Regions from separate parts of the Homo sapiens genome. Here all the other regions are reported to be linked to region 3. Evidence: microRNA targets listed by miRTarBase, many of them from high-throughput screens and not tested one by one. Region 3 holds a microRNA gene; each other region holds the end of a gene's coding sequence.

What was found. Region 3 holds the annotated microRNA hsa-miR-3909 (UGUCCUCUAGGGCCUGCAGUCU, at 4,181-4,202, shown strand). A microRNA usually pairs through its seed, bases 2 to 8, with sites in the 3' UTR of a target mRNA and lowers its output. Matches are read on the target gene's strand: a 7mer-m8 pairs with bases 2 to 8, a 7mer-A1 pairs with bases 2 to 7 and ends in A, and an 8mer does both.
Region 1: miRTarBase lists CSTPP1 as a target of hsa-miR-3909. Seed matches in the 3' UTR shown: 7mer-A1 at 6,174-6,180.
Region 2: the mRNA of FAHD2A is a reported target of hsa-miR-3909. Seed matches in the 3' UTR shown: 7mer-A1 at 4,687-4,693, 8mer at 3,568-3,575, 7mer-A1 at 2,615-2,621 and 7mer-A1 at 2,422-2,428.
Region 4: the mRNA of TNFRSF1B is a reported target of hsa-miR-3909. Seed matches in the 3' UTR shown: 7mer-A1 at 3,077-3,083.

The regions. Positions count from the first base shown.
Region 1 is chr11:47,161,145-47,168,258 of GRCh38, reverse strand. CSTPP1 (centriolar satellite-associated tubulin polyglutamylase complex regulator 1) reads right to left here. Exons shown (of 9, transcript NM_024113.5): 8 at 7,069-7,114; 9 at 6,012-6,795. The coding sequence ends at 6,621. It overlaps ARFGAP2 (ARF GTPase activating protein 2), which reads left to right. Exons shown (of 16, transcript NM_032389.6): 11 at 8-136; 12 at 216-350; 13 at 1,373-1,499; 14 at 1,660-1,753; 15 at 1,873-1,991; 16 at 2,757-3,958. The coding sequence ends at 2,777. Among named protein-coding and RNA genes, the nearest start is that of ARFGAP2, 12 kb to the left of the region's middle. RefSeq lists silencers at 6,990-7,114, 6,907-7,114.
Region 2 is chr2:95,411,630-95,418,743 of GRCh38, reverse strand. FAHD2A (fumarylacetoacetate hydrolase domain containing 2A) reads right to left here. Exons shown (of 8, transcript NM_016044.3): 6 at 6,202-6,310; 7 at 5,980-6,067; 8 at 2,128-5,849. The coding sequence ends at 5,787. Among named protein-coding and RNA genes, the nearest start is that of FAHD2A, 12 kb to the right of the region's middle. RefSeq lists enhancers at 2,435-2,935, 2,936-3,436.
Region 3 is chr22:35,331,530-35,338,643 of GRCh38, forward strand. It overlaps MIR3909 (microRNA 3909), which reads left to right and starts at 4,111; the gene lies at 4,111-4,229. It overlaps TOM1 (target of myb1 membrane trafficking protein), which reads left to right. Exons shown (of 15, transcript NM_005488.3): 9 at 1,452-1,485; 10 at 1,875-1,968; 11 at 2,799-2,919. It overlaps MIR6069 (microRNA 6069), which reads right to left and starts at 5,270; the gene lies at 5,192-5,270. RefSeq lists an enhancer at 5,286-6,195.
Region 4 is chr1:12,205,933-12,213,031 of GRCh38, forward strand. TNFRSF1B (TNF receptor superfamily member 1B) reads left to right here. Exons shown (of 10, transcript NM_001066.3): 10 at 808-3,288. The coding sequence ends at 1,088. Among named protein-coding and RNA genes, the nearest start is that of MIR4632, 18 kb to the left of the region's middle. RefSeq lists an enhancer at 1,058-1,558 and a silencer at 4,547-4,626.

The sequences.
Region 1 (7,114 bases), not on the chromosome of region 3:
TGCGCAGCTCTGTCTCCCACTCCGTGCTGTCTGAGATGCAGGTGATTGAGCAGGAAACCCCAGTGAGTGCAAAATCCTCTCGCTCGCAGCTGGACTTGTTTGACGATGTTGGTACTTTCGCCTCTGGACCCCCAAAGTAAGGCTGTTTTCTAGCTGTAAACTTGGCTGCTGTGTTCCTCATCAGGCTTCTCTGAGCCACTCTACTGTCTCCCTAGGTACAAGGACAATCCCTTTTCCTTAGGGGAAAGCTTTGGCTCCCGCTGGGATACAGATGCTGCCTGGGGTATGGACAGGGTAGAGGAGAAGGAGCCAGAAGTGACCATCTCAAGCATCCGGCCTATTTCAGAAAGGTAGAGTGGGCTGTTTTTTCTTTTTTCTTTCTTTTTTTTTTTTAAACAAGCTGAAGGTAGAGAATTCTAAGGCAGCACTGTCTAGAAGAACTTTCTGTGTTGATGGGAATGTTCTCTGTGTTGTTTAATATGGTAGCCACTACTATGTGGCTATGAGCCCTTAAAATGTGGTTGGTGCAACTGAGCAACAATTTCTGATGTAGTTTAATTTCTGATAAACGTAAATAGCCACCAGTGGCTGGTGCCTGCCTCATTAGACAGGGCAGCAGTCAGGCTTCGGTTTGAGTTGTGCTTTGTCATCATAGAGGGCCTGGCAGCTTCTTTTGCTTGGGGTCCATTTCTCTGGCCGGAGGAGCCTGATTGTATGCTTCAGTCCTGACCTCCTTTCAGGGGTTTTATGTCTCCAGCCCCCTTCTTATTTTTTAAAACCCTACTCCATCTTAATCTGGGATCTGTTTAGTTGACATAATATCTGTGAGTTATCCCCGTATAAAATGGGAACGTAACTACTTCATAGGGTCTCCGGAAATACCTGGCCCAGTGTCCACATACTCAGCGTGAGATGAGAGCAACCATCTCCCTTTCCACACCAGGATGCTTTTGAGAGTAAAGGGGGCAGTTTGCTATTCATAGTTATGACAAGAGTAGGTATAAAGCCAGGCAGACCGACACATATGCTCATTGTAGTACTAGGCAAGTTGTCACTAGGATTAGGGTAGCAGCAGTTGTGTGGCCTCCTGAATGCTGACGAAGCTGTGTGCTTTTGGGCAGGAGCCTAGGCCACTGCAGGCTGTATTTCCACCCTGCCTAGTGCAGGTTCCTAAGCTCTCTGGGCCTTGGCCTCAATGTGGAGAAGGGTGACTCCTCACCAGGGGAGAGGGGCCCAGAGCCACAGAGCCACAGACAGAATGGGACCTGGTAACCCATCACCAAAAGGCCACTGGTGCTCTGTTTGGCCTCTGTACTCTGCCTCCCCTGATGATAATGGGAGGAGTCCGAGATATTCCACATCTTCCCCTCAGAGCCACAAACCGGAGGGAAGTGGAGAGCCGGAGCTCAGGCCTCGAGTCTAGTGAGGCGCGTCAGAAATTCGCAGGAGCCAAAGCCATCTCATCTGACATGTTCTTTGGGCGGGAGGTGGATGCAGAGGTAAGTGGGGCTGTCTGCCCTGAGGTCCGAGGCAGCAGGCAGAAGCATGAGCTTTCTCCCTGCCGCTGCTTTGGGCTTTAGCACCAGGAGGGCCTGGCCTGTGTGAGTCCTTGGGTCATCAGCCCCAAGATCCCCAGGCCTGGCCTTTTCCTCACCACAGTATGAGGCCAGGTCTCGGCTGCAGCAGCTCTCAGGCAGCAGTGCCATCAGCTCTTCAGACCTCTTTGGGGACATGGATGGAGCTCACGGAGCAGGTAGGGCCCTGGTGGGGTGGCAGGCACCAAGTGAGGCCTGGGAGCAGGGCGGGAGGGCCCTGCTGTGACTGGGAAGGGCTTCTTGCTGGGCTCTGGGTCACCCTGCTCTTGTTTTACAGGAAGTGTATCTCTGGGGAACGTGCTGCCTACAGCGGACATTGCCCAGTTTAAGCAGGGTGTCAAGTCTGTGGCTGGGAAAATGGCTGTGCTGGCCAATGGTGTGATGAATTCCTTGCAGGTGAGGCTGAAGTGGGGCCTAATGAGGAGTGCTGGGAGGTTTGCCCTTCGCCACCACATAGAGACACTGCTACTGCTCAGCCCCTCTGAGCCTTAAGAGCATTTTCGGCCGGGTGTGGTGGCTCACGCCTGTAATCCCAGCACTGGGAGGCTGAGATGGGTGGATCACTTGAGGTCAGGAGTTTGAGACCAGCCTGACCAACATGGCAAAACCCCGTCTCTACTAAAAATACAAAATTAGCTGGGCATGATGGCGTGCACCTGTAATCCCGCTACTCGGGATGCTGAGGCAGGAGAATCGCTTGAACCTGGAGGTTGTAGTGAGCTGAGATCATGCCACTGCACTCCAGTCTGGGTGACAGGAGTGAAACTCTTGTCTCAAAAAAAAAACCACAAACGAAAAAGCAAGAGTCTAGAGAGAGGCATTTTCTTGGAGGGCAGCTTCCTTCCTTTCAGCTCCGTGCCAGGGCCGGGCCTCTCCAAGATGCCTCTGTGTCTGCCATGATCTTCCCTGGCCTTGTCACCTGTACCGCTCTTTCTCTTCTCTTCCCAGCTTCTGTGAGGCCAGGCAGGGCTTCCCTGTTGTCGGGTGCCCGAGTGGCCGCTGCCCCAGCTCTCACCGTGGACTCCTGCCTCACCGGGCTGTCCAGCCCCTGCCTCCCCAGTCTTGCTGTGGGGTGCTGGGGCAGGCAGTGTGTTTGCTGGGAAGCTGCTGCAGCTTAGAGCCTCTGACTTTTTTTTTTTTTTTCTCCCCCCTCGCCCCCAGGATCGCTACGGTTCCTACTGATCCGAGCTCTGTGACTCAGGCTTACGATGGTGACGGCAACAAGAACTCCACAGTTCCCAGGCTGGGGATGCTTTGCCTTGTGGAAGCTGGGGAGGATTTGTTACTTCGTATGTGTGGTGTGTGTGTGGGGTGGCCTTTGAGGCGCTCACTCCTGTGAGGGGAATGGTCAGTACCAGCCCTTGTCCTCTGCCTGTGGACTGAGCCCTTTATTCCCTCTCACACCACCCTCCGTGTGTTAGACTCTTGTCCTTCTGTCCTGCCCCCACAGCTGCTGCTCACTTATCCTGCCATACTGGGAAAGGGGGTTCCCCCACGATGGCTTATTCTGGGTCCAGACTTTCCCCAGGTAGGGAAAGCGGAAGGTAGAAGGCTTTTTTTGCTGGCTCTAGGGTTCTTCTAGTTCGAGGCCTTGGGTCCCCATCCTCTGGAACCAGGGGGAGGCCTGGAAGGAGTTCACTGTAGACCCGTCCCATGGGGAAAGAGGCTGCGGACTTGCTGCTGCTGCTGCTGCCAGTGGCCTCTTCTGGGTGCCAGGAGAGGGGAAGGACCTTTGTCTGGGCGTTACCAAGGGCTGGAAACTTTACCTGGTACCTAAAGGTTTCATTTGGGATCAGACCGGAGACCCTTGGGTTCTCCCGTCTCACCACCCCTTTCTACAGTAAGCACTTGGAAGATTGTTTCAGGGTGTCTCAGGGTCCCTCTGTACCATCTGCTGTGGAATGCAGGACCCTCTGTGACATTCTTTATCCCTTCTTCCCCGGGTTGGTGGCCATGGAGGGTCTTGTCTGCTGTGATTCGACTCTGGATGCTGTGAGCTTGATGCTGGCCAGGGAAGCAGAGGATGTGAGAGGCAGAGGCAGGCTCCTGGGGCTGAGCTCCTTCCTCTGCATCATTCTGGGCTTGGCCTGGACAGCACCCGCCAGTGAGAGCTGTGGGCCTCACCCTCTGGCAGCTGAGCCAAGCACTGTCATTCTTGGTGCCATCTTCCCCTGCCGCACCGGCAGTCTCAGCCCAGCCCCCACCTTTGGGTTGTAGGTTGGGCTCCCAAGCAACACAGACCACTCTTCCCCTTGCCCCTCCCCCAGAGGGACTTGACTTTCTTTCTGGACTGTTTGTATTGAAACAAAGTGGTGTCAAAATAAAGCCCCTGCAGGGCCTGGCTCCCTGTTGGTCTGAGTGAAGCAGTGTCCTCTGGATCCTGCCTCCCTGCCCAGTGCCGGCCCCTGGCCTCACTCTCTGGGCTCCCACCGGTAATGGTAGGGCGTCGGTACCGAAGCTGAGGACACTCTCTCCAGGGCCTCCTGCTTCTCTCTTCTCTGAAAGCCAAAGGCCCCTGGCTCCTTGGCTCTGTGCTGCCGTGAGGTCCGGTGCAGCTTCGACCTCACCACCCTGTGGCACGCAGAGGAAAGAGCTGGCATTAGTTGGCCCTTTAACTCGCTGGCTGAGGGCGAGCGAGCAACCTCAGCAGTCCTGCCCCTTGTCACGGCAGTAGGCTTGACTGGGGATGGGTTTCAGTGGAGTTTAAGAAATATTTAACGCCGGGTACAGTGGCTCATGGCTGTCATCCCAGCACTTTGGGAGGCTGAGGCGGGTGGATCACTTGAGGCTAGGAGTTTGAAACCAGCCTGGCCAACATGGTGAGACCCCATTTCTACTAAAAATACAAAATTAGCGGGGTGGGGGCGGTGTGGTGCATGCCTGTAATCCTAGCTACTCAGGAGGCTGAAGCAGAAGTCACTTGAACCCGGGAGGCAGAGGTTGCAGTGAGACTAGATCGCGCCACTGCACCCCAGCTTGGGTGATAAAGTGAGACCCTGTCTCAAAAAAGAAAAAATTACATATATATACATACACACACATACTCTTAGACGTTAATGGGACCCTTTAAATTTAGGGAAGAAAAGGTGTGTGTTTGTGTGTAAATCCTTAGCTTGGCCACCCCTTTCTCTTGGGGGCTTCTGAAACATCTCTGTGCCACCTTAGGAGTCCTCACGGTAGTTACAGACCACTGGTCTGGGAAGTGGATGATTAGAAAGGATGGGCAGAGGGAGCCAGGGGGCTGTAAGCCAGGGATTTGCAGAGTGTAGGTTTGGGACTCATTCAGCTTTGGGATCATCTGGAATTTCTGGACTCCATCCCAAGTTGATAGAGTTAGACTCTCTGGAGCTTGGTAATTTGCATCGTCAGTAGGCTTTCCTGTGATTCTGAGGACACCAGGATTTGAGAACCATGTCTCTTATGGGCTGTGCATCATTGTGGGCCTACAGAGCTCATCACGCAGCCTGAGCTTTTTTTTTTTTTTTTTTTTAAGATGGTCTCATTCTGTCAGTCACTCAGACGGGAGTGCAGTGGCACGATCATGGCTCACTGCAGCCTCAACCTCCTGGGTTCAAGTGATCTACCTCGGGTCTCCCAAGTAGCTGGGACTACAGGTGCAAGCTACCATGCCTGGCTAAGGTTATTTTGTAGAGATAGGGTCCTACTATGTTTCCCAGGGTGGTCCTGAACTCCTGGGCTCAAGCAGTTGGCCCACCTTGGCCTCCCAAAGTGCTGGGATTACAGGCAATGAGCCACTGCATCCTGGAGCAGCTTCGGGGCTGGAATGCCTAGTCTTGGCCTCAGCTCTGCAGGGGTTTGGGAGGCAGTTCCTGTAATGATCCGTTCTGGGTAGGGATGAGCCCAAGGAAATGTGTATGCCTAGTAGTGGTGACATCCACCTTCAGAGGAGGCAGTCCTGTTCTGCTTGGGCTTCTGGGTGGGTTTTGCTTTCTGGGGGACCCCGCCCCTTCAGCCCTCAATCCAAAGAAGTTGAAGACACTCGTCCTTACCTGCCTCCAGTCTTGGCTGGGATGTGTCTGCCCCAGGCTGTGTCTGTCTGTCTTTCACAGCTGCATCCCACTGTTCTAACCCCAAGCAGGTGCTTGGCAAATGTTGACTGAAACCCTGGCTGGAAGGCTGTGCAGTATTAACCCTTTATGGCCACGGTCTTTAAAGTTATGGGAACCTGGCCTTGAACCCTCTGAACCTGTTTCCTGAAGGCCGTTCCAGCTGTGAGCACTTTTCCTCTGGAAGGTTGCTCTTGTGCGAAGCTAGGCCCCTCTGCTCGTTGTCTGAGGCAGGTCCCCAGGTCTGAGTGGGCCACTGGCCTACCTCCTAGTCCTACCAGAAAAGCACCGAAAACCCAAACTCCCCCTCTCCCTTCTCCCCTCAGCCTAGGAGCTTTAGACTCACCAGTTACCAGACATGAGGGACTTTTTATTCGTTTCACATGTTTGTTTAGCTATTAGACACAAAGGGGTCAAGACTTGAAGCAGTTTTTGCAAGTGAAATCATCTTCTGGCCCACCCTTCATATTACCAAGGCTACTGGCTGTTCTCCAACAGGCCACAGCGGTTATGTCCTCCTGGTACTTGCGTCGCAGGTGTCACCCTTGATGGTGCAAGGCCCTGCGTGGCTATTCGGGTTCTCCCCCTTAATGGAGTTGCTGTGAGGAGATGAACCTTATTGGGGGACCCGCAGAGGCTGGCTCAGAAGAGACTGCTCTTAAGAGGTTAGGAGGACTAACAGGCTACGGCGTGACAAGGTGGCCTCAGCACAGTCTGTCAGCTTGGGGCCTAAGTGAAGTTCACAGGCTGATAGGGCCAGGGAGAGCAGGCCATTCACCTTCCGGGGCCACTGGCTGGGCTGATCATCAGAGCCCCTCTGGCTGGTCTTGGGGCTGTTATTCACCTTGTCAGCAGCAGAGGGCAGCACAGCAAGGTGCTGGAGAGGAGGCTGGGTGGGCACACCAAGGGCTGGGTGGGAGCAGGTACAGGGCGCTGTGGGCAGGACCCTTTGGACTCCTCAAGTCTCCGACTCGTCTGTCTCTTCAGTGGAGCCATCACTCTCTCCATCCACTTTTCGGGAATGATGGAGAGGTCTCCAGGGAGAGCCAACCCGGGGAGGGGTCCGGGAAGGCAGGCAACTGGCCTCTGGACTGGCTGTGACCGAGTTGACCAGGCCTGGGACCTGGGCCAGCCTGAAGAAGGGAAGAAGCCTGGAGGGCAGCGAGAGGCCTCCTGTACAGAGAGCAGGGCCTCCATGCCCACTCTTAACACTAGGGTAAACCCCTGGGCTGCAGCCCCCAAAGGACTCAGAGGGAGGGACACCTCAGGCCTCCACTGGCCCCCAGACCCTTCCCTGGCAGATGTGGGATGTTACAGACAAGTGGTGTTGGCCCCAGATGGGGCACAGCCGTGTCCGACCCGTCTGGCCCCCACAAGGGGGCAGTATCCTCCCACTTGACACTTACAGCCGTTCCAGCTCTTCATCCATTGCTGGGTCGTGCATCAGATCCC
Region 2 (7,114 bases), not on the chromosome of region 3:
TTTCATTCCACAGGTTTCTCCTTGTATGGTTCCCATGAAGGTCATCAATGCCAAGCTCGATGGCTTTTACTCATTCCCCATCTTTGTGAGTGTCCTGCAGTGTTTGTCATGAATGCCTTTTCCCTCCTTCCTGAAGCTCTCTACTAACCTCACATCCCGGTTACTGTGCACACCTGTGGCTCTTCCTGTCTTTCAGATTACTCCACGTATGCCCTCTTCTCTGACTTTTTCTTCATTCCCCATCTCCAATTCAAGGTTCATTTTTAATGTTGGGGCCTTGGTCACATTCTCTTCTTTCAATACACTATTCTCTGGCCTCCTCCCAACCTTCATGCATCAGTGCTCTCTTCTAAGTAGGGAACAGATATATCTCTCTGGCCTGTTTCCTGAGCTCAGGGCAAGTATTGCCACCAAACAGCCTCAAAAACAATATATCCCCATGTATCCCAAGTACAAGACATCCTCTTTCCTTACACACACACACACACACACAACCACCCCCAACCCCATACTACCATCTATCCATTTTCTATTTTGCCTGTATCTATGTCAGTCTTTGTGATACTGCTCAGAGACTTCTACAGGTACTTGTGGTACTTTGAATGTGGATAGGCCCCTGAAGGAGTAGGTGAGATTAATCCAGTGAATTGTGGCTTATTGCCATTATTGTGACCCAATCTTTAGATTCACCCTATTGAGGCCTAGAGAAGTTTGATCTACACTCGATTCTATCGTCTGAGATACTCAAAGCAGCACCAGAACAAGCATACATATGCAGACAACTTAGGGGTATTTGTTTTGTGGACTGCATATTTGTATACTCCCAAATGTATGTTGAAACCCTAACTACCAGTGGGGTGGTATTTGGAGATGGGGCCTTTGGGAGGCTATTGGGTCATGGGGATGGAGCCCTCATGATGGGATTAGTGCCCTTATAAGATAAAATATGAAACTGCTTGCTTCCTCTCATTCTCATTCTTTCTCTGTCTCTCTCTCTGCCATGTGATGACACAGCAAGAAGATGGCCACCTCCAAGCCAGGAAGAGGGCCCTCATCATGCTCCTGACCATGGTTGTTCCCTTCAGCAGCATGTGAAATAGACGTTTGTTGTTTAAGCCACCCAGTCTATAGTATTTTTGTTATAGAAGCCTGAACTGACTTGACAATTAGGTAGCTCCAGGCCTAGTTTTAGATCAAATGAGGCCGAAGGGCATCCTTGGATATCTTTTCTCTCATAGGTAAATATGTGATCTTTACATTAATTCTGCATTTTTTTTCCCAAAGCCTCTGGTAGAGAGCCTCCCAAATAGCCAGCTTCCTGTAAATGTAGCTGAATGGTGGAATTTGCCTGGCTGCTTCTCTTAGTCAGGAAGCCTGAAAAACTGGCACTAGAGGATCTGTAAATGGGAAGCTGCTGCAGCTTCCTGCAACTCAGCTCCCAGATCCTTCATTCCCTGCCTAGCCAGATAGCATCCTAAGGGTGATGTTTAGGATTCAGCATTAAGGTCAACTCAGGGATGAGCTGCTTTGAATCCTTCATTTCATTGATGGAGGCAGATGTTCTGAGACATTAAGGAACATCCCTATAGTCCCCCAAGGTCTTCTTATATGGCACCTGCCTTTATTTACTTTCTTTTTAGAAAAGATTGCATCATTCTTAGATGGCCATTCCTGGGATGGGCAGAGGGGGCACTCTGTGTGCCCCTTGCCTGCAGTGTGTTGGTGGGAGATACAGTCCCATGGCACATTTTCATCCTGTGACTTTCACCCACAGCTCTGTGGAAATGCTGCCTGGAAGAAAAGCATATCAGGGTACCTTTGGAGAGGTTGTCCTGGGTGGATCCTTAGGGTCTAGAGGTCTCAGCAGAGAGACGAGGGAAAGAAGGAGTGTTCAGGGGTAGTTATGTATTGGGAAATCCAAGCCTTTGTGTGGGTATCTCCTAGTTCATATGGAACCCAAGAATTCTCAACTATTCTCGAGGACTCTGCTTGGACCTTGTAAGGATCCGTGCCTTCCTGGATAGCTGAAACTCGGTGTCAGTCACATTTTCAACAGCTTTTATTGGGTACCCGCCTCTGCGTCTTGTATTGTCATAGCAGTTTACACACAGCAAGCCAGACCAGGAGTGAAGAATTCATGTCATTTGTTATTTTCTTTTATTTGTGAATATGTGTGGGGTTGGGAGACTGGGTGCTAGACATGAGCTGAGGTCCAGGCTAGGCACAGGGAGCTGACAGCTGCAGGACATGCTAATTGGTCTGGGAAGGCCTTTGGAATCTAGGGAATTGGCTTTCTGAGCTGAGGCGGGGTCCAGGCAAGGAGGCAACAGGCTGCAGGAATCACAAAGGGACCGGGGACCTCCATGTACCCAATATCTAGGTCTCATCAGTCGGAGAAACATTCTCAGCTCTTGGTGACCTTGTCCTCCCTCAACACGGTACTCACTGCATATGGACTCATTTGACAATTGCCACAAAGGCTTTGGCCTCAGAGGCACTTTAAGGATATAACAGTAGGAAAGGGAGGCTTGGGGAGCCAGAGAGTCACCCACACAAAGCCCCACACGTGTTCCTAGCAGAACCAGGATACACACCCAGGCTTCCTGAGGCCACATGTCCTCCCTGTGGCTGCCTGGTCATTCCCCTTCACCTAGCAGCTGTCTTGCTCCCATGTAGAACAGCAGGGCCCAGCGGCCACCTGCACCTCGCCATTTCCTCCAGCTCTGTGCTAGAAATGATGCAAGCAGGAAAATCATTTGCTTGTGGACCTACTATGTGTCAGGCACCTGCTGAACAGTAGCATTTGATGCTCTCGACGGCCTTAACAGGTCGGCACTGATCTGTTGATGCTGCAGTCGAGGAGCTTTAGCTTAGAGAGGTTAAATAGCATCCTCAAAGTCACCCAGGTCATGCTCTGCTTCTGGAGGGGCTGGGATGCAGCATGGGAGTGTGACCTCCTGCGCACGGACTGCACGGGCCGCCTCGCAGCCGGCATGGTGAGGTGAGATGAGTTGAGGTAAGCTCGCAGCTCCTTGGTGCCAGCCCTTCCACAACCAGAGCTGGGCGGCAGCAGGCTCTTCCCCAGCTTACCTGGGCAAGAGAGTGAGGACTGCACGGCTGGCGAGTGATACATGGAGAGTGTTGCCGCCTGCCTGACAGGCAGAAGATAAACAGCTCCCCGTTAAATCTCGCTTAATGCTGATATTTATAAATTTATTCAGCTTGTGTTTACCGAATCAAGAGAATGCCTAATAACATAACATGCTTCATCTCACATGTTCCTACTAATGAGAATGCAAGTATTGCTTTTTTTTTTTTTTTAACATTTCATTTGCTTTCCACTCACTCCACCCTGTTCTGTTGTTGTTGGCTTAGAGTTTAATCTGTTGCTAAACACTGGGAAGTCTGGGCTTCTCGGGTGTTAGTGAGGAGAGAGCCAAGGTGGGTCTGGGGCAGTGGCTGGACCAAGGCCTCCAAACTGTGCCCTGTCCTACATGCAGTGCTTGGTGGACATGGAGTTGGCATACCCAAAGGATGGGCCATACTGAGGGAAAATGAAAGTCCTGGTGTCCTCTGCTGTATTTTGGGGTGGCTTCGTGCATTGGGTCAGGGTTGCAGTATTTGGGGGCTTCGGGACAAAAAATTTAGAGTAGAGCAGTGTCCTTGGCTTTGGACAGACAGGAGGATGGACAGAATGACCAAGGAAACATAAGCAACATTTGTGGGGTGTGGTATAGCTGGGTGTGAGGATGAGTGTGTGAGAGGGGTGGAGGGCTCCGTCTCTACCTTTGTTTAATCTGCTTACTGAGTTATTGGTTTTGTTTTTTGTTTTTTTTTAAGAAAGCCTTTCCCTGGCTGCTTATCGCCCCAAGGTCAGCTGTGCTGGCTGCTGCAGGTTCAGTTCTGGGATACCCAGGGCAGTCTTCACCAGGCAGGAGGAGCCATCGGAGTGGGGCAGGGAGAGATGGCAAAGAGATCAGCAAAGCTCATGAGGGTGTTTGGAAATGCATTTGGCAAAGAAGTGATGGTGGAGTGAGATGAGATGGTCTGTGCTGGGCTTCCTTGGGTGGGGTGGGTGGGAGAGGGGAATGAGGGTGCCTGGCCTCAGAGGCCAGGTGGACAATGAGTCGAGTGGGGTTGGGGGGCACCAAGTAGAATTCTGGAGCAGGGAGGAGGAAGGCCGCGGAGAGGCTGTCCAGTGAGGCAGGACCAGGATGGGGGCACACAGGGGACGGGAGAATGGAGGGAGACTAAGTCTGATTCAGGAAAACAAAAACAGAATCTGGGACGAAGCAGTGGAGGAACTGAGACGGGGTGCAGGCCTTCCACAACCTTTCCTTCCCCATCCCACCACATCCTCTGTTTTCCCAGCTCCACATCTTCATACTCTATATCCACCCAGCACTAGATTTTCTTTTTGATGTCTTCTTTTTCTTCTCCTCTCCAACAGCTGTTCCAGTTCCTGCAGGCCACCGCCCAGGAAGAAGGGATCTTTGGTGAGTCCCAACCAGTCAGCCCAGGCTCCTGCAGGCAGTGGTGTTTGCTGGTGGCTGCTGCCCCCTGCCGGACAGTGACAACCCAACTCTAGGAAGGCGGGCTGCAGAGTAGTCTTCTGTCCAGTCGGAGATCTATCCCTCCCTGGGCTTCTTTAAACAAGAGGAGAGAAGCCTGTGCCCAGTGTCTCCCTGTCCTCCCTACCTAGAGCCTTCACTTCTCTCTTCTTTCCAGAGTGTGCAGACCCAAAGCTTGCCATCAGTGCTATCTGGACCTTCAGAGACCTAGGGGTGAGAGGAGCCAGTGTCACCATCTTCTGTCCCCCTGCTCCCACCCCAATAGAGTGGCTCAGGGAAACCCAGCTATGTTCCCATCACCCCACAGGGCTGGCCTGATGGTGCCTCATTAAGACCCTGGGATTTACTTGGTGTCTTCCAGCAATAGACGTGGTGATGGGTTGGAGAAGGTGGGATGGTTTCCTGCCTCTTGGTCTCCCAAATCACTGGCTCATCCTTCTAGGTGGGGTATTGGGGCTGCTTTGAGGCAGCATTTGCACTCAAACACTGAGGCCTAAGGGGTCAGAGGTCTCAAGGCAGGTTTCTGGGGGACAGGCCTGGCCCCTGGGCCATGTGGACACAGTCCCTGTGGTGAGTGCACTCACGGCCCATCTTCCATGGCCCAGGTTCTGCAGCAGACGCCGAGCCCTGCAGGCCCCAGGCTCCACCTGTCCCCTACTTTTGCCAGCCTGGACAATCAGGAAAAACTAGAACAGTTCATCCGGCAGTTCACTTGTAGCTAGAACTGTGAGAAGGAGCCTGTGCTGAGACTTCTGAGCCCCAGAACACAGCTGTGTCCTAGAGCCAGAAGATGGAGAGGAGGCTGCAAACCCTTAGCTATAAATATAATCATTGAGGCTTGATTGTCCCTTGCCATCTCTTGCTTTTTCCCTTCTTTGATGTGATAAACAAGGGGACGACACGAATTGTCTTTTCCCCAGCCCAGCAGCATCTTTTTGGCATATGTGTGTGTATTTGCTCTCTTCTTCCCCAGTCCCACAAAATGCCCCAACTTGTCCCATGAAACAAAGCCCAAAAGAAGACAAACAGCAGAAGCAAAGCTGCTGCTTTGACCTGACGAATTTATTGAAGAGAGCTCTGTCCTTCTCCCTTCTACCGAGAAGAGGCGGCTTGCAGGGCTGGCACCTGTCCACACCTGTCACTGGGCCTTTCCCTGGGCTAGGCTGAGTGGGAGCAGATGCCCTCATCCTATGTGCAGGGCCTGTGCAGGAGCCATCACACCACCTTGTTGATGATGACACCTAGTTCTTCAATCTCACACTGGACTTCATCCCCCTTCTGCAACAGAGCAGGCCATGACAGTGTCAGCCCTTCCGTCAGACACACATACACAAGCCTGTACTTCTCAAGTCTGAGGCAAGCCTGCCAGGCCTTTGGGGCCCTTGCTCTTTGCTTTTCGCTAACCTACCTTGAGAAAGACAGGAGGTTTCCTGAATACACCGACACCTGGGGGGGTCCCAGTTAGGATGACATCCCCTGGGTAAAAGGTAACAAACCTGGATCAAAGCAGAAGGACCCGGTGAGACCAGGGGCTGGCTGAGGTGGCCACAGCCAAAGATGGAGGGCTCAGGTCAGCCTCCACATGTGTGGCAGGTGAAGCGGGGCTGGCAGGACAGCCCCTGTCACTCACTGGGAGACCCAGGCTATCAGGTCCTCTGTCTTGAATACCATCTGGTTGGTGTTGCCGCTCTGGACCACTTCCCCATTCACTCGGCAGCAGATCTTTAAGTTGTGTGGATCTGAAATGCAAAGATGGTACCTTGGAGTTATCCCTTTTCCCCCTCAAACCCCCCAATATTTTACAAACACAACTGTAGGGGTGCTTCGTGACTTGGCAGGTGAAAGGGCTTCAAAGTGCCCACATTGACTCAGTGCTCTATGTTAGAACTTTCTGTATAGACATTGGCCTTCTCAGGCCTCCCCGCATCCCCACCAAGAGCACCAAGCAGTAGTAACAGGGATGGGTTGAGAGGATGTTTCAGACTCTGAAGGGGAAGAGAAAAATGGCTAGGGTTTTTGCCTTGAAAAAAATAAGGGCATCTGTCTACAGCATAGGATGACACCTGTAGATTGACTCAGCAGGGCCAAGCGTGGTGGCTCATGTCTGTAATCATAGCACTTTGGGAGGCCAAGGCAGGCGAGAACTGATTAAGCTCAGGAGTTCAAAATCAGCCTGGGTAACTTAGTGAGTGCTTGTCTCTACAAAAAATAATAAAAACATTAGTCAGGCGTGGTGGTGCGTGCCTGTAGTCCCAGCTACTCAGGAGGCTGAGGCGGGAGAACTGCTTGAACTCAGGAGGTTGAGGCTTCAGTGAGCTGGGATTGGGCCACTGCACTCCAGCCTGGGTGACACAGTAAGACCATGGCAAAAAAAAGACTCAGCATCTATAAAGCAGTGAGGCAATGGTTCTAGCCGGGACAGAGAAGCCTCGTGTACTGGATGCTGGCAGGGGATGGATTACTGTAAGAACATCCTGGCTAACCAGCACTTTTTACTGTTGGTGGTGGTCCTAGTGTTCTACCCCCCTTAAGTAGAGCAGCTG
Region 3 (7,114 bases):
GGGATGATGTGAAATGGGGGAGGAGCAGTTCCTCTAAAGAGTACTTAGGTGCTATTACAAAAGAAGGAGAAGGGCTGGGCGCAGTGGCTCACACCTGTAATCCTAGCACTTTGGGAGGCTGAGCCGGGAGGATCACTTGAGGCCAGGAGTTTGCAACCAGCCAGGCCAACATGGTGAAACCCCGTCTCTACTAAAAAATACAAAAAAATTAGCCGGAGGTGGTGGTGGGTGCCTGTAATCCCAGCTTACTTGGGAGGCTGAGGCAGGAGAATTGCTTGAACCCAGGAGGCAGAGGTTGCAATGAGCCGAGATCGCACCACTGCACTCCAGCCTAGGCGACAGAGCAAGACTCCATCTCAAAAAAAAAAAGGAAAGAGAAGGAGAAGGATTGCTGGGTCTGCAGAAATTGTGTGCCCATCACACCTCCTCTGTATCTGTAAAATGAGGCTTGTGGCATAAGTGAGAGTCCATGAAACAGTGTCTGTAAAGCGCTTAGCAGTCCAGGGTGTCTGATAACTGACATGAGTTATTCCAGCCTCCTCCAGCCCCTTGTTCATTTTTTGTGTCTTTCTCCATCAAAAGACACTCACTGATTGATTCTAAATCAGTGGAAAGTGGGGGGTACCCTGCAGGTCACGTCTGCCTAGCTTCTCCTGCTCGTTGGCCCAGTGGAATGAAAGGCCTCTTCCCTGCCATTTTGGGGTATGGGCTGTGAGGTGACTGAGGGGCCCCATCTGGTAGCAGCTGGTACCCTCAGATATCCACAGTCATTAGGCTTAATATCTGACTGTGCTTTCAAGCTCGCAGTCACTTATACCCATGTCCTAATTTGGGCTTCAGCACTTCAGGGAGGCAGGTGCCTACAGATACTAGACAAGCAGACTAAAGTTCAGAAGGAACATAATTTACCCGAGGTCATGTGATAAGTGACAAGGCCACGACTTGAACAGACCCCACACTAAAGTCTTCTCGATCTATCACACCGGCCCCTAAGTAGCTCCATAAAACAAGATTAGAGATACATGTATCTTTCTTACAGCACTGAAGAGAGCACTAACACACACACACACACACACATACACACACACAAATATGTAATTGAAACAAGTTTCATAAGACAGTCCTTACCTTTACTGCGTGCCATGCATTCCTATTTTCTTTGCTGTTCTAACCTATTCCTGTTTATTTGTTTCATGCTACTCATGACTAAGGTTGCCTTATAATTGATCATCCAAATTGGGACACTTTTGCAAGGGAAAGAGGAGCACTGCTAGTTACCCAGGGACAGCAGGCATGAACTGGATCTGTCCAGGGCACACCAGACGTGTCATCACCCTGATCATAACCCACCGTGTTGATGTTGAGACCCACAGTTTGAAAAGCTCTGCCTGGCCGTGTGTGGGGGCCTGTCTCAGTCTGTCTCCATAACTCGTGTCTTTTCTGTCTTGTAGGTTTGAACGGTTCCGAACAGGCCAGACCACCAAGGTAAAAGTCTTCTTTTCTGTGACTAGATCAGGCCCTGTTCATGGGAAGAAGGAGTGCCATTCTCACCTCCCTCCCCTAGTAAACTGGACAGGGTGGTGCTGTCTTATCCAGGCCCATAGAGAAATCCCCTTCTAACTTTTTATGTCCCTGTCCCTTTAAGGTAAATAAGGCTGTGCCACCACCTGATGCCCCAGGGTCTCCCCAACCTCCCAGGGAGTCCAGTTGAGCTGGAGCCAGAGGGGAGGAAGGAAATTCCCTGATGCCCAGTCCTAGCTCCTGGGGCCCTGGTGACAGATCCCTGGGCAAAGCCTGCAAGCCACAGTGCTTGGGGCAGAAAGGAACGAAGCTGCAGACAGCGGGGATGATCAGGGCATCTCCCTTCCCACCAGGCCCCAAGTGAGGCCGAGCCGGCAGCTGACCTGATCGACATGGGCCCTGACCCAGCAGCCACCGGCAACCTCTCATCCCAGCTGGCAGGAATGAGTAAGTGTGGTTTGGAGGGCTCCAGCTGAGGGTACATTATGGTACTGTGGGCACCCCTGCAGATTTTCGGGGTGCCCTTGTTATATACCCACAGCAGAGTGTCAGTCTGGACCCCACCTTGCTGGGGTCCCAGGCTGAATCTTGCTGCAAGGTGGGGCACTCGGGGTCACTGCCCCTGGCAGCCCCACAAGTCCTGAGCCGCCTTGGATCTCAGAAATCCTACCATCCTAGGATTGGCCCTCTACACTGAATTCTCCATGGCTTCAATCATCTGCGTGAGCTTGGGCAAGTTCCTTAAACCTCCTGAGCCTCTCTTTCCTCCTCTTTAACAGGAGTAGGGAGCTCGTGTATGAGAAGCGCTTAGACCATGCCAGGCCCAGGTTGCACTCTGGCTGAGTAGTTGGCCATTGTCACTGTTATCACTGTGATAGGTTTTAATATAATTTACTGTCTGCTTCATGCCAAGCCCTAGGAAATCATTAGCACCCCATTTTGCATCACTAATGCTATACTTTTTGAAAAAATCGACTACCCATCTGATTACTGTCCTCCTGCCCAGCCACTTCCCCAGCAGAATCAATGGATAGCGTTTTGACTGTTCTCTAACGCTCACAGCAGCCCCAAGAGGGGTGAGTAAACTAAAGCTGGGAAGAGGAAGCCGCTTGCCCAAGGCCCCACAGCCAGCAGCAGGTGGCCTGCCTCGCGCATTCCCCCACCCACACGTGCCACTTCCCCAGCACCAAGCCCTGGGTCTGGCAGCAGGTAGCTCAGCAGCAGCTCACACACAAGCTTGTGGATGGGTCTTTCACGTGGCCTTTCTGTCCCTGCAGACCTGGGCTCCAGCAGTGTGAGAGCTGGCCTGCAGTCTCTGGAGGCCTCTGGTCGACTGGAAGATGAGTTTGACATGTTTGCGCTGACACGGGGCAGCTCACTGGCTGACCAACGGAAAGAGTGAGTGGCCTGGCCCTGCCCTGGTCCCCTGCAGTTCGGGTGGCTCTCGGGGTTCTGGAACCCGGTTTTATGGTGGCACACCATGAGGAAGGGCACACGGACCCTGCTTAGTAAGCACGCCCTTAGTATCCCCTAAGTCAGTCCAGCATGGCCTGGGAGCCCTGTGGTCAGTTGACAGACTGCGCTCCCCACAGGCCATGCTGGGTGGGGGAGGGGGAGCCTAATGACCCACTGTATGCCAGAATCTTACATAGTCTGATCAGAGGGGGAAACTGAGGCACAGAGAGGGGCAGGCTCATTTGCCCCAGGTCAAGGAGCTAATATTTGGCAGCACTAGGTTAGGAGCCTAGGGCTGTCTGGTTCCAAAACACAGTGTCTCCACCCCCCGCCCCCCTCCCTGCACTGTGTACCGCATAGTAAGCCCTCCAGGAGCAGGGAAGTTTCCTGATAAATCCTCAGGGACTTTCAAGTCAAGTCTTTTTCTGTTGTTCCATAGCCACCGTTAATTTCCAGAGAAGATTAAGCAGGTTCTGTCAGCCTTGCCCCAGAGCTGGGGCTCTGCCCTTCCCTGTGCACCGTGCATTTTCAGGGGGTACTTTCAGCAGCATAGGCACGTGGCCTGAGTGTGTCCACCAGGGTCTGACCCCTTGCCGGGACCTGCGGGAGAACTGGCCCCGTACAGGCTTGTAAGAGGAACAGTCTGCTTGATGTTTTCTTCAGCCTTTTGCCCACTGTGACCCCCAGGGCTGAGCTGTGGGCAGCCAGGATTCTTATAGCTAAGGAAAGTTCTAGATTATGGGATCTTCCCACTGACCCCACTCAGCTCCTTAGAGGTCATTCTGGTGTCTTTTGGAACTTTGTCAATGGGCCTCCAGAGAGCCCAGGGATAACCTCTCCACACCCACAAATCCAGGTCCAGGCTGTAGCCTGCTAGGTCCTTAGGGCTGCCCTGGCTGTTAGCTGTATCTTTCTTTAGTCTGGGCAGAGTCTGTACTTTTAAGCCCAGGTACCCTGGGACCAGCAGCTGTTGCCATGGAGTTAGGGGTGCTGCCGAGGCTACCCTGCAAAGGCAAGCTAATGAGTGTGATGGGACTTGCAGCCAGACACGCCCATCCACAGAGGCCCCAGCAGGCAACACTGCTGGCCATACTGGAGAACCCTGGCGCCTGCCCTGGTCACCAGCCTGGCTGAGGTATGCTGTTGCGCTGTCCTTCCTCTGGGGAGCAGGCTCCGGGGGACAGGGAAAAGCACACAAGGAACTTGTCCTCTAGGGCCTGCAGTCTCATGGGAGAGTGACATGCACCAGGACCACCGCTGTGAAGGGCTAAGTGCTGTCCTGGAGGGGGCACCAGGCTCTGTGGACACAGAGGAGGGAGCATGCAACTCTGCGGAGGGTACTCAGAGCTGGACCAGGTGCTGGGTGATAGGAAGGCCATTTCAGGCACTAGGAACAGCATGTGCAAAGTCTCAGAGGCAGGGCGGGAGAGAGGTGCCCTGGCTCCCGCACAGCAGCTGGGAAAGATGCTCTTCACACAGGGAAGGGGGCAGGATGCTGAGAGGGTGGTGGGGCCCACTGGGCTACAGAGAGGCAGTTGATTTTATTCTAACATGAGCAGGAGGGAGCACAGGAAGGATCTTTTTTCTTATCAGATTTTCATCTTTGAAACTGCCTTCAGCTGAGCACAGCTGAAATGACATCATGCACCTTCTCAGGCCATTGGTTCTCCTGCAGGCCCTCCCCAGGGCTTGGTTTCCACCCTGGCAGAAAACATCCAGCAAGGTCAGGCGTGGACCTGAGCATCCATTTCGTCTTCCCTTTGTTCTCCTGCCTGGCTGGCCCCCTTAAATGCTTCTGGTGGATCTTCCAGCTCTGGTCACCTGACTGGCCTTTTCTGCCAGCTTGGTGTCCAGCCCGCTCCTCCCTGTACCTGCCTGGCTCCCCACTTCACACCAGCCTGCAACCAGCTCTGCCCTGGCTGGCAGGGAAACCAGCTCCTTATCAGCCGCTGTTTCTGCTCCAGCCTTGACCACAGCTGGCACCGTCACAGCCTTCCTGCAGCCAGTCCTATCCACTCAATGCCAAGGAGTAGCAGGGCTTCTGGGCGAGCCACAGCAGAGACGCCTCGGCTAGGCCTTCACAAAGGCAGGGGTGTCCTTCCCCCGCTTTGTCCGCATCTTCGTCAGTGCTGCTGTACACAGAGGCCTTCTCTACAAGGAGCACTTAGACAAGTGTCACCCCAGTGGCCCAGGTGCAGCCCCTGCCCACCAGCCCCACTGGGACCACCTAAGGAGTGACCCTCCACCCTCCTGCACTGGGCAGGGGGCAGCAGGCCCTAGCCCAGGGGTCACCACCCAGTGCAGGAGGTGCGGGCTTCCTCCAGGGAAGTGCTTGGCCCTCCACCACCACAGGCATGGCCTTCAGGGACAGCTGGGCTTCAGGGCCATGTGTGGGCAGGGGTGGCGAGGAGCTAAGCTTAGGAAGGGCAGATAGTTCTTTTTTTTTTTTTTTTGAGCCGGAGTCTCGCTCTGTCTCTCAGGCTGGAGTGCAGTGGCGCTTGCAGAGTGCAAGCTCCACCTCCTGGGTTCACGCCATTCTCCTGCCTCAGCCTCCCGAGTAGCTGGGGACTACAGGCGCCCACCACCACACCTGGCTAATTTTTTGTATTTTTAGTAGAGACGGGGTTTCACCATGTTAGCCAGCATGGTCTCGATCTCCTGACCTCGTGATCCGCGCGCCTTGGCCTCCCAAAGTGCTGGGATTTCAGCCACTGCACCTGGCCCAGATAGTTGTTTTGAGTGAAGGGAAATCATGGGTTTCTGCGTGTTCTGGGGCTGGGCATGGCTTCTTCAGCCTTGCCCACAATGCGCCAAGCATGTCTTAGAGACAGCAACAAGCACCTCCAGACCCTCAATTAGCAGGCCTTCTCTGGGTCAGAAGTCAGCAACCTGACGCCCCACCTCCCCCGCCACTGGCTTTAAGGTTGGCTCCAGCAGGGCCCTGCCGTAGTCACTGGCCCACTTGCCATGGATGGGAGCCGTGTAACCAGGGAATGCCCCAGCTAGTGGTCACACTCCACCAGCAAACTCTGCCCCTGGTGGGAAGGAACAGACAGCAGCACTCTTCAAAATGACTGCGTGGGAACTGGGGGTCATATTCAAGAAGCCCCTTTCAGTGCCAGCCTACTCCATTCCTCAGAAAGCAAGCTGGTATTGCAAGAGTTAAATGTGATGCAGTCCCAGTTCCTGAAGCCTACAGTTAGACCAGCCCCGCTTCACTAGCGTGTCAGGTGGCCTTGTTCCTAACAGGAATCGCAGGCCTTTCCCTTTGTGACCAGAATTCTGTGGCTTACTTCTTTGCCTCAAAGCTGCACTGAGCCAGTGCTGAAGTCCTGTCTGCCGGCAGTTCAGGGCGAGAATAACAGGGCTCTTTCCCTGCAACAGGGCTGGGTCCCCAACACCTGCCCTGGGCACCCCCACTGCGGCAGCTGGGAAAGACACCATAGCCGCCTCTCCTCCTTAGCCAGCTTCTCCTCTCACTCAGGTTATTCTCTTGCTCCCCAGGAGACTTAACCTCACACACAACATACCCTTCCTTGCCTCTCCTCATCTGCCCAGCAACTGTGGGGTCAGCCTCTGCCGCTCCCAGCCCATCAGCCTTGCGTGCCCTCCCAGTTCCTGCCTCCCCACCCTGCCTAGCTGGCTGGCACCCCCCAGAGGACATTTAGAAGAGCTGTAACCAAGCCACCTCCCATGCTGCTGAGACAAGGTGGGGGCAGAGTCATCTTTGTGCTGGTGAGCCAGTGCAAGACAAGATGGCACCTCACCCAGCAGTTTATAGATGTGTTTTCAGCAGCAGAATGGAATCCCCCATTCAAATACGACCTCATACACAACCACAGTCTATAAAATAGGAAACAAGATCTGCTCAAGAAAGGGTCTGCTGGGAATTCTCCATGAGCCTACGGGCACTGGAGCTATTTATCAGTCTCCTGAGTTTGGCCAATCCTGGTCATAGCCATTGGTGGTCTTGGTCTCAGTCTTTGGCCAGCAACACCCTCCCTAACCTCTCCAGCCTTTGCTGCTGTCTGTCATGTAGGTCACTTGTCAGATCCTAATTTCCAGAGGCAGGAAATGAGACCCTTTTTACCATTTCCAGGCAGGCCTGGAGGATGGGAGCCGTCAATCTGTGCCCCCC
Region 4 (7,099 bases), not on the chromosome of region 3:
GTCATCTTTTGAAGGGAGACAAGGCAGGAATGATGGATGGGTGTGTGATATGAGAGAAAGATGGGTCCGAGGCTCTGGGCCCAAGCAGCTGGGTGGATGGCAGCAATGGGAACTGTGATGAGCAGGAGAGGTTTTGGATGCGAGATGGGAGTAGAATCAAGAGTTAAGTTGGAGGCTGAGCACGGTGGCTCACACCTGTAATCTCAGCGCTTTGCGAGGCTGAGGTAGGCAGATTCTTTGAGGTCAGGTGTTCGAGACCAACCCAGGCAACCTGGCGAAACCCTGTCTCTACAAAAAATTAGCAGGGTGCGGTGGCCTGTAGTCCCAGCTATTCAGGAGGCTGATGTGGGAGGATCACTTGAGGCCGGGAGGCAGAGGTCACAGTGAGTTGAGGGAGTGACACAGCACTCTTTTGAGACCCTGTCTCAAAAAAAAAAAAAAAAAAGACAGAAGAGACAGGGTCTCACTATGTTGCCCAGTCTGGTCTTGAACTCCTGGGCTCAAGCGATCCTACAAACTTGGCCTCCCAAGTAGACATCTGTTTTATATAATTGGCTCCTCCCATCTCTGGGGTGATTGGGGCTGGGTAGGTAGTGATGCTATTCTTATTCGGCAGAGGGGAAAATGAGGCACATGCAGGTTAAGTGACTTGCTCAAGGTCACACAGCAGAGCTGGGCTAGAATCTTGGTCTCGGCTCCTGGCCCAGTGCTCTTTCCCATGTGTCTGAATCTGCATCTTGGGCAGGGGTCCCTGGGCCCCACTCCTGGACCCCCGGACTGACCCCCACCCCATCTTGTGCTTAGCAGATTCTTCCCCTGGTGGCCATGGGACCCAGGTCAATGTCACCTGCATCGTGAACGTCTGTAGCAGCTCTGACCACAGCTCACAGTGCTCCTCCCAAGCCAGCTCCACAATGGGAGACACAGATTCCAGCCCCTCGGAGTCCCCGAAGGACGAGCAGGTCCCCTTCTCCAAGGAGGAATGTGCCTTTCGGTCACAGCTGGAGACGCCAGAGACCCTGCTGGGGAGCACCGAAGAGAAGCCCCTGCCCCTTGGAGTGCCTGATGCTGGGATGAAGCCCAGTTAACCAGGCCGGTGTGGGCTGTGTCGTAGCCAAGGTGGGCTGAGCCCTGGCAGGATGACCCTGCGAAGGGGCCCTGGTCCTTCCAGGCCCCCACCACTAGGACTCTGAGGCTCTTTCTGGGCCAAGTTCCTCTAGTGCCCTCCACAGCCGCAGCCTCCCTCTGACCTGCAGGCCAAGAGCAGAGGCAGCGAGTTGTGGAAAGCCTCTGCTGCCATGGCGTGTCCCTCTCGGAAGGCTGGCTGGGCATGGACGTTCGGGGCATGCTGGGGCAAGTCCCTGACTCTCTGTGACCTGCCCCGCCCAGCTGCACCTGCCAGCCTGGCTTCTGGAGCCCTTGGGTTTTTTGTTTGTTTGTTTGTTTGTTTGTTTGTTTCTCCCCCTGGGCTCTGCCCCAGCTCTGGCTTCCAGAAAACCCCAGCATCCTTTTCTGCAGAGGGGCTTTCTGGAGAGGAGGGATGCTGCCTGAGTCACCCATGAAGACAGGACAGTGCTTCAGCCTGAGGCTGAGACTGCGGGATGGTCCTGGGGCTCTGTGCAGGGAGGAGGTGGCAGCCCTGTAGGGAACGGGGTCCTTCAAGTTAGCTCAGGAGGCTTGGAAAGCATCACCTCAGGCCAGGTGCAGTGGCTCACGCCTATGATCCCAGCACTTTGGGAGGCTGAGGCGGGTGGATCACCTGAGGTTAGGAGTTCGAGACCAGCCTGGCCAACATGGTAAAACCCCATCTCTACTAAAAATACAGAAATTAGCCGGGCGTGGTGGCGGGCACCTATAGTCCCAGCTACTCAGAAGCCTGAGGCTGGGAAATCGTTTGAACCCGGGAAGCGGAGGTTGCAGGGAGCCGAGATCACGCCACTGCACTCCAGCCTGGGCGACAGAGCGAGAGTCTGTCTCAAAAGAAAAAAAAAAGCACCGCCTCCAAATGCCAACTTGTCCTTTTGTACCATGGTGTGAAAGTCAGATGCCCAGAGGGCCCAGGCAGGCCACCATATTCAGTGCTGTGGCCTGGGCAAGATAACGCACTTCTAACTAGAAATCTGCCAATTTTTTAAAAAAGTAAGTACCACTCAGGCCAACAAGCCAACGACAAAGCCAAACTCTGCCAGCCACATCCAACCCCCCACCTGCCATTTGCACCCTCCGCCTTCACTCCGGTGTGCCTGCAGCCCCGCGCCTCCTTCCTTGCTGTCCTAGGCCACACCATCTCCTTTCAGGGAATTTCAGGAACTAGAGATGACTGAGTCCTCGTAGCCATCTCTCTACTCCTACCTCAGCCTAGACCCTCCTCCTCCCCCAGAGGGGTGGGTTCCTCTTCCCCACTCCCCACCTTCAATTCCTGGGCCCCAAACGGGCTGCCCTGCCACTTTGGTACATGGCCAGTGTGATCCCAAGTGCCAGTCTTGTGTCTGCGTCTGTGTTGCGTGTCGTGGGTGTGTGTAGCCAAGGTCGGTAAGTTGAATGGCCTGCCTTGAAGCCACTGAAGCTGGGATTCCTCCCCATTAGAGTCAGCCTTCCCCCTCCCAGGGCCAGGGCCCTGCAGAGGGGAAACCAGTGTAGCCTTGCCCGGATTCTGGGAGGAAGCAGGTTGAGGGGCTCCTGGAAAGGCTCAGTCTCAGGAGCATGGGGATAAAGGAGAAGGCATGAAATTGTCTAGCAGAGCAGGGGCAGGGTGATAAATTGTTGATAAATTCCACTGGACTTGAGCTTGGCAGCTGAACTATTGGAGGGTGGGAGAGCCCAGCCATTACCATGGAGACAAGAAGGGTTTTCCACCCTGGAATCAAGATGTCAGACTGGCTGGCTGCAGTGACGTGCACCTGTACTCAGGAGGCTGAGGGGAGGATCACTGGAGCCCAGGAGTTTGAGGCTGCAGCGAGCTATGATCGCGCCACTACACTCCAGCCTGAGCAACAGAGTGAGACCCTGTCTCTTAAAGAAAAAAAAAGTCAGACTGCTGGGACTGGCCAGGTTTCTGCCCACATTGGACCCACATGAGGACATGATGGAGCGCACCTGCCCCCTGGTGGACAGTCCTGGGAGAACCTCAGGCTTCCTTGGCATCACAGGGCAGAGCCGGGAAGCGATGAATTTGGAGACTCTGTGGGGCCTTGGTTCCCTTGTGTGTGTGTGTTGATCCCAAGACAATGAAAGTTTGCACTGTATGCTGGACGGCATTCCTGCTTATCAATAAACCTGTTTGTTTTACACGTCGACCCCTGGCTCTGCCTGGGGTCTGGGCTTGGGTTTGTCCATGCTCCTACTTGTCTGCCACCCCTGTGTAAGGGGAGATGGCGTCACGGTCCCTGGAGTCTGGCTGGCCCCTGTTGTGACTGGACCACAGAGGGACCCCTGTTACAGCCGCCCCCTCAAGCCTGTGAACCATAAGAGAACTTCCTGCTCGGGACCACACAGCTGGCTGGGTTCCAAGTGTGCCCTGGTCTCATGCCTTCATCCTCCAGGTCTCCTGGGCCTGCTCTCAGGACCGGGATGGGGTCTCTGCAGATCCCTAGCAGCCTAGGCAGCCAGGCTCTGCCCTCCTGGGGACCCCACTCGGGGAGAGTGGTTGCCCCTGGGATACTCAGACCAGTACAGGGTTTTGGGGGCCCAGAGGACATCCCTGGGCCCAGGTAGGAGGTTAGAACAGGGTTCTGGAGATGACCTCTGACCTCCTCCTGAGGGATGAGCAGCAGTTTTCCAGAACAAAGGATTGCAGGGAACTGTCAGGCAAAAGGAGTTCTGAGTTTAAAGGCCTTAGCCTGGCCAGCATGGTGAAACCCCATCTCTACCAAAAATACAAAAAATTAGCTGGGCATGACGGTATGCACCTATAATCCCAGCTAGTCAGGAGGCCGAGGCACGAGAATTGCTTGAATCAAGGCAACAGAGGTTGCAGTGAGCTGAGATCGGGCCACTGCACTCCAGCCTGGGTGACAGAGTAAGAGTCTGTCTCCAAATAAAATAAATAAATAAAATCAATTAATTAGAAGAAAGCCTTGGAGGGGAGAGAGACCTTGGCCTGTGTATTGGTTCCACTGACCCCCTGGGTCACCATCGTCACTCCAGCTCCTGTGACTCCCTCAGTGGGACCATTTTCATTCTTGGTGATTATAGGATCTGTGATTGATGGAACGCCCCGCCTCCTGGCTTCTCGCCCTCCTCTCCTCCATGGTCCTGTCCTCCAGCCTGTCTCAGTCACTCAACCCTTGACCAAGGCTCCCCACACTTATTCCATAAAGAGCCAGGGAGCAAATTTATTTTAATTTTTTGAGACAAGGTCTCACTCTGTTACCCAAGCTGAAATGTGATCGTGGCTCACTGCAGCCCTGACCTCCAGTCGCAGCCTCTTGAGCAGCTAGGACTACAGGCATGGACCACTATGCCGAGCTAAATTTTAAATTTTTTTATTTTTATTTTTTGGGTTTCCCTGTGTTGCCCAGGCTGGTCTCGAACTCCTGGGCTCAAGTGATCCACCGGCCTGGGCCTCCTGAACTGCTGGGATTACAGGTGTGAGCCATTGCGCCTGACCAGAATCAATATTTTACACTTGGCAGGCCTTACAGTTTCTGCAACAACCACTCACCTGTGCTGTTGAAGTGTGAAAACAGCTGTGCACAGGACATGAAAGAATGGGCAGGAGGCGGATGTGGCCTTCGGGGTGTGCCCATGCCAGTGCCTTAGAGCCTGGCATTACTGATAACTGCACGCTAATCTCAATTTCAAGCATCCCACTTCCCCCCACCCCTACTTCCTCCTGTCTTTCTCCCTCAGTGGCACCTGCAGCTGTTGGTTACGTTTTCTCCCTTGTACGCACCCACGGCACTTTCTCCTGGTTTGTTGTTCTCTCTCTGGTTGAACCCAGCTCTCTGCCTGTGCCACACCTGCACGTCTGCACCTGGCTGGGGCAGGATGATGGCCTTCCACCATGCTGGCTGGTCGCGTTTTCATTTCATGATCATTAGACTTGGCTGGGCACAGTGGCTTATGCCTGTAATCCCAGCACTTTGGGAGGCTGAGGTGGGCAGACTGCTTGAGCTCAGGAGTTCAAGACCAGCCTGGGGCAACATGGTGAAACCTCATCTCCACAGAAAAATACAGAAACTAGCTGGGTGCGGTGGCACGTACCTGGAATCCCAGCTACCCATGAGGTTGAAGTGGGAGGATTGCTTGAGCCCAGGAGGCGGAGGTTGTTGTGAGCTGAGATCTTGCCACTGCACTCCAGCCTGGGGGATGGAAAAAAAGAATAAATTCTATGGGGGTCCTTGGTGCTGCCCAGCAGTGACAACAGGTCCCCTCCCCGATATATTAGTTCCTGTTGTTGCTATAACAAACCACACAAACTCAGTGGCTTAAAACAATACAATTTCATTCTCCTACAGCTCTGGGAGCCAGAAGTATAAAAGCAAGGTGTTGCCAGGCCTGCTAGGCTCAAATGGGGAATTTGTTCTTGGAGGCTTTAGGGGAGAATCTGATTCCTTGCCTTCAGCTTCCAGCGGTACCTGCATTCCTTGACTTATGGCCCCTTCGTCCATCTTCAGAGATAGCAACGGAATCTCTTCAGAAGTCAGATCTCCCTTTGCCTCCCAAGTGTAGGGACACCTGTAATTACAACGGACCACCCAGAAAATCCAGGACACTCTCCTCGTCTTAGCATCTTGGCCAGGTTTCAGGAATTCAGACATCAATGTCTTTGCAGGGGCAAAGACAACCATTGGTTATGCAGCCTACCAGCTCCTATTCACTCAGTCTCCCACTCTTTCTATTTATCTTTTAATTTTATTTATTTATTTATTTATTTTTTGAGATGGAGTCTCGCTCTGTCACCCAGGCTGGAGTGCAGTGGTGCGATCTCGGCTCACTGCAAGCTCTGCCTCCCGGGTTCAAGCGATTCTCCTGCCTCAGCCTCCCGAGTAGCTGGGATTATAGGTGACACCACCACGCCCAGCTAATTTTTGTATTTTTGGTAGAGAAGGGGTTTCGCCATGTTGGCCAGGCTGGTCTTAAACTCCTGACAGGTGATGCACCCACCTCAGCCTCCCAGAGTGTTGGGATTACAGGTGTGAGCCACTGCGCCTGGCCTATTTTATCTTTTAAATAAAAGGATTAATTGAGGTTTTTGTTTGAGACTGAGTACCACTCTGTGACCCAGGCTGGAGGGCAGTAGCGCAATCACAGCTCAATGCAGCCTGAAACTCCTGGGCTCAAGTGATCCTCCCACCTTGGCTTCCCAAAGTGCTGGGATTATAGGGATGAGCCACCACACCTTACCCCACTCTTCTAGATGGACTATTTCATGTGTTCTCCTTTATCCCCAAGCCTCTGTCCTCACCCCACCCTTACCTTCAGTTGGTTACCTTGCTGTCTATTTCACCGAGAAAATAAAACACAAGAGAATGCTTCATGCTTGCCCCACCACATCTGCCCTCTCACCCTGCATCTGTGCCCACAACCCTGGCCTTTGCCGTGACTGGGTCTGAGGACAGCGCCTCCCCTGCACGGGATCTTAGCATCTCTCCTGGCTCAAGGACATTGCTTCAGTGAGTCTCCTGTCTCTTTCCTTCAGCATCAATTTCTCTGGCTCCTGGATCTTTCCTGTTTGCATATAGACACCCTGAGGTTCCTCCCATTTGTGAAACAACCTCACACCCATTAGGACAACTACTATCAAAAACCCAGAAATTAGTAAGTGTTGGTGAAAATGTGGAGAGATGGAAAACCTTGTGCGTCGCTGAGGAGAGTGCACAGTGGTCCAACTGCTATGGGATACAGTGTGACAGCGACTCAAAACATGGAACATAGAATTACCATCTGATCCAGCAACTCCGCTTCTGGGTGTGTACCCTAAAGAACTGAAAACAGAGTCTCAAACAGATATTTGTACAGCAGTGCTCCCTGTTCATAATAGCCAAAAGGTGGAAACAACCTAGGTGTCCAAAAGGTGGAATGGATAAACAAAATGTGATCTACAGGCTGGGTGCAGTGGCTCACACCTGTAATCCCAGCACTTTGCAGGGCTGAG